2 linked regions of the Homo sapiens genome follow. The protein of the gene in region 1 interacts with the protein of each later gene in a pairwise test. Each region holds a gene or a part of one and is shown on either strand. Other genes may lie near its edges.

Evidence for each region. Proteins that work in one complex are often made in the same cells at the same time.
Region 2: the proteins of TAP2 (region 1) and RBM18 interact in a two-hybrid assay, tested with the Homo sapiens proteins (one large-scale study listed by BioGRID and IntAct).

Annotation. Positions count from the first base shown.
Region 1 is NC_000006.12:32,832,112-32,835,977, reverse strand, and holds part of TAP2 (antigen peptide transporter 2), read left to right. Parts: intron 1-204; coding exon 205-335; intron 336-618; coding exon 619-824; intron 825-3,153; coding exon 3,154-3,351; intron 3,352-3,516; coding exon 3,517-3,645; intron 3,646-3,866. UniProt on the Homo sapiens protein: ABC transporter associated with antigen processing. In complex with TAP1 mediates unidirectional translocation of peptide antigens from cytosol to endoplasmic reticulum (ER) for loading onto MHC class I (MHCI) molecules.
Region 2 is NC_000009.12:122,258,081-122,261,946, reverse strand, and holds part of RBM18 (probable RNA-binding protein 18), read left to right. Parts: intron 1-438; 5' UTR 439-454; coding exon 455-567; intron 568-3,866.

The DNA.
Region 1 (3,866 bases):
ATGTCTCCTCTTTCTTCTTCCTCTGTGTATTCCTTACCTCTTCTCTCTCTGTGTGTCTGTCTCTCATTTCTTTCTCTTTTGCCCCTCCTGGCATGCTTTCCCCTGACTTTGCGCTTCTCTGCACTCCTGGCTTGCTCCTCTGTTTCACCCGCTGGCTTGCTCCTTCTCTGCATCTCCCTCCCCTCTTATTCTCCTACCCCACAGCTCACTGTCTGCAGGCTGCCGAGGAGGCTGCTTCACCTACACCATGTCTCGAATCAACTTGCGGATCCGGGAGCAGCTTTTCTCCTCCCTGCTGCGCCAGGACCTCGGTTTCTTCCAGGAGACTAAGACAGGTGGGGCCTGGAGTCCAGGTCTGAGATTCCCATGGACATCCCTTGCCCCTCAGTGACCTTCCACCCACAGCCTCTCCTCCTGCCTTCACCCGTATGCCAGGACTTGGGGATGCTTTTCTCTTGTTTGGGACAGGGTGGAGAAGCAGCCTCCACTGTCCCTCTGCAAGTGAAGGAGGATGTTCAGAGGAGGGGGCTGTGTCAGAGGGAACGGTCAGGAGGGAGTTTCTGGGGGCCCTGCAGTACACATGGTTTCCTTTTTCCTCACCTGCTCTGTCCTTCTTAGGGGAGCTGAACTCACGGCTGAGCTCGGATACCACCCTGATGAGTAACTGGCTTCCTTTAAATGCCAATGTGCTCTTGCGAAGCCTGGTGAAAGTGGTGGGGCTGTATGGCTTCATGCTCAGCATATCGCCTCGACTCACCCTCCTTTCTCTGCTGCACATGCCCTTCACAATAGCAGCGGAGAAGGTGTACAACACCCGCCATCAGGTGAGCGTGCATGTAAGGGAACCCCAAAGGGAGAATAAAACTGACAGGTGAGGAGGCTTCCACATTTGTGGCTAGAGGATCCCCTAGAGAGAGATGTTCTCTTCTCAGCCATTAGGGGAGAAGGTATATTGTAGTATATACTACATTTTGTTTGTCCAGCCATCCAACAATGGATATTTGACTTCAGAAGATTCATGATTCTCCAGAACTGTAAACAAAAATGTAAAGTGTATGTGAAGGTATGGGGGAGGGAATAGGAAGGGGAGATGATAGGCGATGATAACTTTTCATTAGCTTCTCAAAGGAGTCTGTACATCCCCCGCCCCCACTGCGAAGATTAAAAATGGTTTCTTAGAGGCTTTTAGGCAGGGAGATTTTCCCTTTAAAATCAGCAGAAGAAGTCTGGATGCAGCATAGGGAAAGGAGGCGTCATCAGGAAGTCCTAAGTCTGAATGTCAGCTCCACCTTCTCTTTTTCTCTTATATTGTGGTAAAACATACATAACATAAAATTTACCATTTCAACCATTTGAAGTGTACAGTTCAGTGACATTTAGGAAACCCACATTGTTATTGGGTAACCATCATCACCATCCATCTCCAGAACTTTTTTCATCTTCCTAAAATGAAACTCTGTACCCACTAAATAGTAACTGCCTACTACCCCCAACCCCTGGCCGCTGGCAACCTCCATTGTACCTTCTGTCTCCATGAATTGTGATGACTCCCGGTGCGGTACGTAAGTGGAACCATACAGTATTTGTCTTTTTGTGACTGGCATATTTTACTTAGCGTAATGTCTTCAGGCCTCATCCATATTGTAGCATGTGTTAGAATTTCCTCCCTTTTAAGGCTGAATAATATTCTGTTGTGTGCATATATCACATTTTGATTATCCATTCATCTGTCAATGGACATTTGCGTTGTTTCCACCTTTTGGCTGTTGTGAATTATGCTGCTGTGGACATGAGTGTACACCTGTTTGAAACCCTGCTTTTGGTTCTTTTGGGTATATACTTAGAAGTGGAGCTGCTGGATCATATGGCAATTCTATTTAACAATTTTTGAGGAACCATGTATTAGTCCATTTTTACGCTGCTGATAAAGACATACCCAAGATTGGGCAATTTACAAAAGAAAGAGGTTTATTGGACTTACAGTTCCATGTGGCTGGGAAGACCTCAAATCATGGCGGAAGGTGAAAGACACATTTCACATGGCAGCAGACAAGAGAAAAGACAGCTTGTGCAGGGGAATTCCCCTTTTTAAAACCATTATATCTCGTGAGACTTATTCAATATCACAAGAACAGCATGGGAAAGACTTGCCCTCATGATTCAATTACCTCCTACCCAGTCCCTCCCACAACACATGGGAATTCAAGATCAGATATGGGTAGGGACACAGCCAGATCGTATCAAACCACCATACAGTTTTCCATAGCGGCAGCACCATTTTAAATTCCCACCAGCAGTGCATAAGGTTTCCAATTTCTCCACATCCTCATCAACACCACTTTCTGTTGTCTTTTTTTTTAATAGCCATTCTAATGGTGATTAGGTGATTAGGATTATCTCATTGTGGTTTTGATTTGCATTTCCCTAATGATTAGTAAATATTGAGCATCTTTTCGTGTGATTTTGGCCACTTATGTTTCTTTCTTGAAAGAATGTCTGCAAGTTCTTTGCCCATTTTCTGATTTTTTTTTAAGTTGTGGGAGTTCACTATATGTTTTGCCTATTAATTTCCTATCAGATATATGATTCACAAATATTTTCTTGTATTTCATGGTTGCTTTTTCACTCTGTTGCTAGAGTTCTTTGATGCACAAACGTTTTAAATTCTGATGAAGTCTGATTTATCTATTTTTTGTTGCCTGTGCGTTTGGTGTTATATCCAAGAAATCACTGCCAAATCTAGTGGCATGAGGCTTTTCTTCTACATTTTCCTAGGAGTTTTATAGTGTTAGCTCTTATGTTTAGGCCTCTGATCCATTTGGAATTACATCTCCACCTTTCTTAACTATCTGTGGCTCCTTGGGAAAACTACCCTTCTTTCCTGATTCAGACACTGGGGATGGGAAAATTACCTCAAATGAAGGTTAAAAAAATTGCATGTATCTCCTATACTACCTAACACTGAGAGCTCAATAATATTTTGTTCCCTTGCTCCTTCACTCTTATTCCTTCTGGAAAGAAGAGTAAGGAAGAGGGAGAGAAACAGTTTGGTATTTTTAGGTAGACTAGGGAGCATCTCACTGGCTGGAGTAAGATGTGGGGGCCTGCTGTCTTTGCACATCAGCCCTGGTGTTTGCTGGCCCTCTTTTCCAGGAAGTGCTTCGGGAGATCCAGGATGCAGTGGCCAGGGCGGGGCAGGTGGTGCGGGAAGCCGTTGGAGGGCTGCAGACCGTTCGCAGTTTTGGGGCCGAGGAGCATGAAGTCTGTCGCTATAAAGAGGCCCTTGAACAATGTCGGCAGCTGTATTGGCGGAGAGACCTGGAACGCGCCTTGTACCTGCTCGTAAGGAGGGTAAGATACCAGAGTGGTTGTGAAAGGAGCCCAGGAAAGGGGGAGGGCAAGGGAAGAGGAAACTACAGCTGGTTCTAGAGGCCTTTGCAGCTCAGTCTCATAGAGGCAGAGAGGGGGAAAGAATGGGAAGATTCCCAGCCTCATCTCTTTCTTCTCCTCTTCCAGGTGCTGCACTTGGGGGTGCAGATGCTGATGCTGAGCTGTGGGCTGCAGCAGATGCAGGATGGGGAGCTCACCCAGGGCAGCCTGCTTTCCTTTATGATCTACCAGGAGAGCGTGGGGAGCTATGTGCAGGTGAGCGAGAAGCCAAGCCTGCTCTCCTTTTTTCCCTCTCTTTTTCTTTGTGGACTCCTGGGCCTTGGGCTTTATTTGTTCTTTTTAACAATACAATACAAAACCAAAACCCGCAAGTAATTTTGCTATGGAGAATTTTAAACATATGCCAAAAATGAGACAAAATAATATTACAAACTCACATGTATACATCCTGTGCTTTAACAATGATCAACTCATGC
Region 2 (3,866 bases), on another chromosome or scaffold:
TGCTATATTGCCTCTTCCATGAGGAAAAGGGATGGAGTGCTGCTCTTCCCTACCCATCCCTTTTAATGCCATTAAGACTCTTCCTGGTGGTTTCCAAGGCTTATTTTGGGTGACAGTTGTTGAACTGAAGTATCATGTAGTAATAGAGACTTTGGCCTCCTGCCCAGTCAGCCTCTGGCTTCAGAGGAGGAAAACTTTAGTTTCTCCACACAGAACCACGCCCCTTTCACCTTAAATGGCAGCTTGTGTGCCCTGGCTGCCAGAGCAGTTGTCCCAAGGGAACTGGTTCTGGGGCCCTGGTTGTGGAATCACTGAGGCCTTTGAAGGACTGCCCAGAGGGCATGCCCTCCTTGAATAAATGTTTGTTGAGTTGAATTTGAAGTCTTGTGTTCACACATTGTTACTCCCCTCCTGCCTGAATGTTCACATTTCCTTTAGTATTTCATAGACATTGATGGAAGCAGAAACCAAAACTCTTCCCCTGGAGAATGCATCCATCCTTTCAGAGGGCTCTCTGCAGGAAGGACACCGATTATGGATTGGCAACCTGGACCCCAAAATTACCGAGTAAGTCTAAGTTACCTTAGTTTTTTACCTACAATATTGGGATGTTTTGTGGTGATGATGTCAAGAAGAATTTTCAAGGGGTGTGGGATATACTTAGACCCTTTTACTTACATCGTGTCTTCGGAGAGATAAGATGTTGTTAGCCTGTTATCTTGTCACTTTTTTTACATTTGGACTCTGCTACTGCAAGGACACAGACTTGGGTATCCTTTAATCCATATACCTGTTTTTTTCCTATCTGCCAAAGACGTTCTCCCATTTCCAACTATTTGAATCCTTGTACCTAGTAGCTCTAGGGAATTATTCTCTAGAATCAGCCTTGGGAATACATTTGTACCCAGAATAAAGGAACAAGCAGAAGTCTCAGTACCTTTGCAAACAGGCAGAGGAGACCACTTGACTGTAATTCATATTAAGCAGCCATAGAACTATAGAAGGTCAGAGTTGTAAGGAACCTTAGAAATCATGTCCCTTTGGTTTTCATTCATTCATTAAATGATTTGAGTGCCAAGTGCCATGCTAAGCAGTTTGCAGACTTCTTAAATCTGAAGAACCCTGTCTTAGAGTAAAAGTAATAATCAGAGCTGTATATAAAATAAGAGCTCAGAGTTGCTCTGACTAAAAGGGAGAAGAGATGGAACCAAAATCTTTTGTCAACTACTACCCTTTCTTTGGCCATCCCTGTTTAGGCTCTGTAGAACTTCCAGGGCTCCATAGAGCACACTTGACAACCTCTGATGGGACCCAGCTTTTTTATCCTACATAGAGGAAACCAAGTCCCGAAAGACAGAAGTACCTTGCCCGAGTTCACGAAATTGATTGAATTGCCCTGACTCCCTGCTCTTTTACATCACAGCCATTAAGATGAAAAGGAATTTCTTAGCTGAGAAAATTGAGAGGTTTTTCCCTTCTGCCAGTTATTTGATAGAGGGAGGGTGGTGGTTGGTGGCAGAGTACAATGAGTGGATTGGCCTGTATGAGGTCAATGCTGAAAGCCAGTTTTTTTGTTTGTTTGTTTGTTTTTGTTTTTGTTTTTAAGACAGTCTTGCTCTGTTGCCCAGGCTGGAGTGTAGTTGCACAATCTTGGCTCACTGCAACCTCCACCTCCTGGGCTTAAGCAATTCTCATGCCTCAGCCTCCCGAGTAGTTGGGACTACAGGCATGCGCCACCATGCTGGCTGATTTTTGTGTTTTTAGTAGAAATGGGGTTTCACCATGTTGACCAGGCTGATCTCGAACTCCTTACCTCAAATGATCCACCCACCTTGGCCTCCCAAAGTGCTGGGATTACAGACTTAAGCCGCCATGCCAGGCAGAAAGCAAGTTTTGAGCATATCATCAGTCCTAGAAGTTACTCCCTTTAGAATAGTGTTAAAGACAAGGGGAGGCCGGGCACAGTGGCTCACGCCTATAATCCCAGCACTTTGGGAGGACGAGGCAGGCGAATCACTTGAGGTCAGGAGTTTGAGACCAGCCTGGCCAACATGGTGAAACCCCGTCTCTACTAAAAATGAAAAAATTAGCCAGGCATGGTGGTGCATGCCTGTAGTCCCAGCTACTTGGGAGGTTGAGGCGCGAAAATTGCTTGAACCTGGGAGGCGGAGGTTGCAGTGCACGGAGATTGTGCCACTGCACTCCAGCCTGGGCGAAAGGTGAAGGGAGGAGATGAGGAAACCTGCTTCTTTGAGTATGAGATGAGACAAGGTATATATGAGAGTTAAGATTAGGAAAGAGAAGAAAAGGATATAACCTTATAAATCAGGATTATAACAAAAAGTTCCTTAAACCTGCTCAAGCTCATATCAGCCAAATGTAAATATATTCAGTTCCCTTAGAAATTATGACGGTATTTAAGATGTGTTGCCCACATATTATGTTATCTTGGTCACAGGGACCCTAGAGTGGATTGCATTTATTTCAGTTCTCTTTTACGGTTCATGGCTTTTGAGGGTGAGTATATGAATCTGTCCAACCTCTCAATTAATGTCTCTTCATCAAAGAAATTTTTTCCATCATCCAAAACCCAGGCTATGAGGGGATGCTCATAGTGGTTTCCATTCCCACCTCTGCCTGTCTAAATGGAAATCTAAAGTGTGGAAACAGCGTTGGTTGTGTTGGCTGCACTTCTCTGTAATGAGACTTTTGTTCTAATTGTGTCCTGCTGCTTGACGGGAAGGTTCAAATGGGCATTTGCCACCTCAGTTTATGTCATAAGTTGGAGTGTGTGGATGTTTTTTTCAATTAGAACATTGGCAGGAACATTGAATCAGAACTTTCCCACTGATATCTCTGCTCTTTTTACATCAGGCCAGAGGTAGACATCAAGTAATAAACTAGATCAGAGCATGCTGGCTGGAAGTGCTGGGCTTTCCCTGTGGCTGGCTTCTCCACTTCTGTATCACAAAAGACCATTTTTATTATTTTTTCCTATAGATTCTTTTTTCTTCTTCTTCTTTTTTTTTTTTTTTTTTGACAGCTCTGTCACCCAGGCTTGAGTACAGTGGCACAATCATAGCTCATGGCAACCTAGAACTCCTGGGTAGCTGGGACTACAGGTGCTCGCCACCATGCCTGGCTAGTTTGTTGTTTTTTGTTTTTGTTTTGTAGAGACAGGGGTCTCAGTATGTTTCCTAGGCTGTTGTCAAACTCCTGGGCTTAAGCAATCCTCCTGATCAGCCTCCCAAAGTGTTGGGATTACAGGCGTGAGCCACTATGCCTGGCCATCCTATGGATTCTTTACCTTAAAACATTTTATCTGTCAAACAGACTGGTTTATTAAATTGTAATAAATTTATGCTTAAAGATATAACTACCACTGAGCACGGTGGTTCACACCTGTAATCCCAGCACTTTGGGAGGCCGAGGCGGGTGAATCACAAGGTTAGGAAATCGAGACCATCCTAGCCAATGTGGTGAAACCCCATTTCTACTAAAAATACAAAAATTATCCAGGCGTGGTGGCGGTTGCCTGTAGTCCTAACTACTCAGGAGGCTGAGGCAGGAGAATCACTTGAACCCGGAGGGCAGAGGTTGCAGTGAGCCGAGATCACACCACTGCACTCCAGCCTTGGCGACAGAGCAAGAATCTGTCTCAAAAAGAAAGAAAGAAAGAAAGAAAGAACTACCAATCATAGCTTATGGTTAACATGAAATATTAATATTACCTCATTTAATTTACTTAATTAAAAGGAACCTGACATTTTAGTAAAGTAAATCTTATCTTGTAGAAATTGATGATTTCCTTCCATGTTTTTGAAATACAAAAACTTCTGGATCTTGTTCCTCTGAGGGCATGTAAT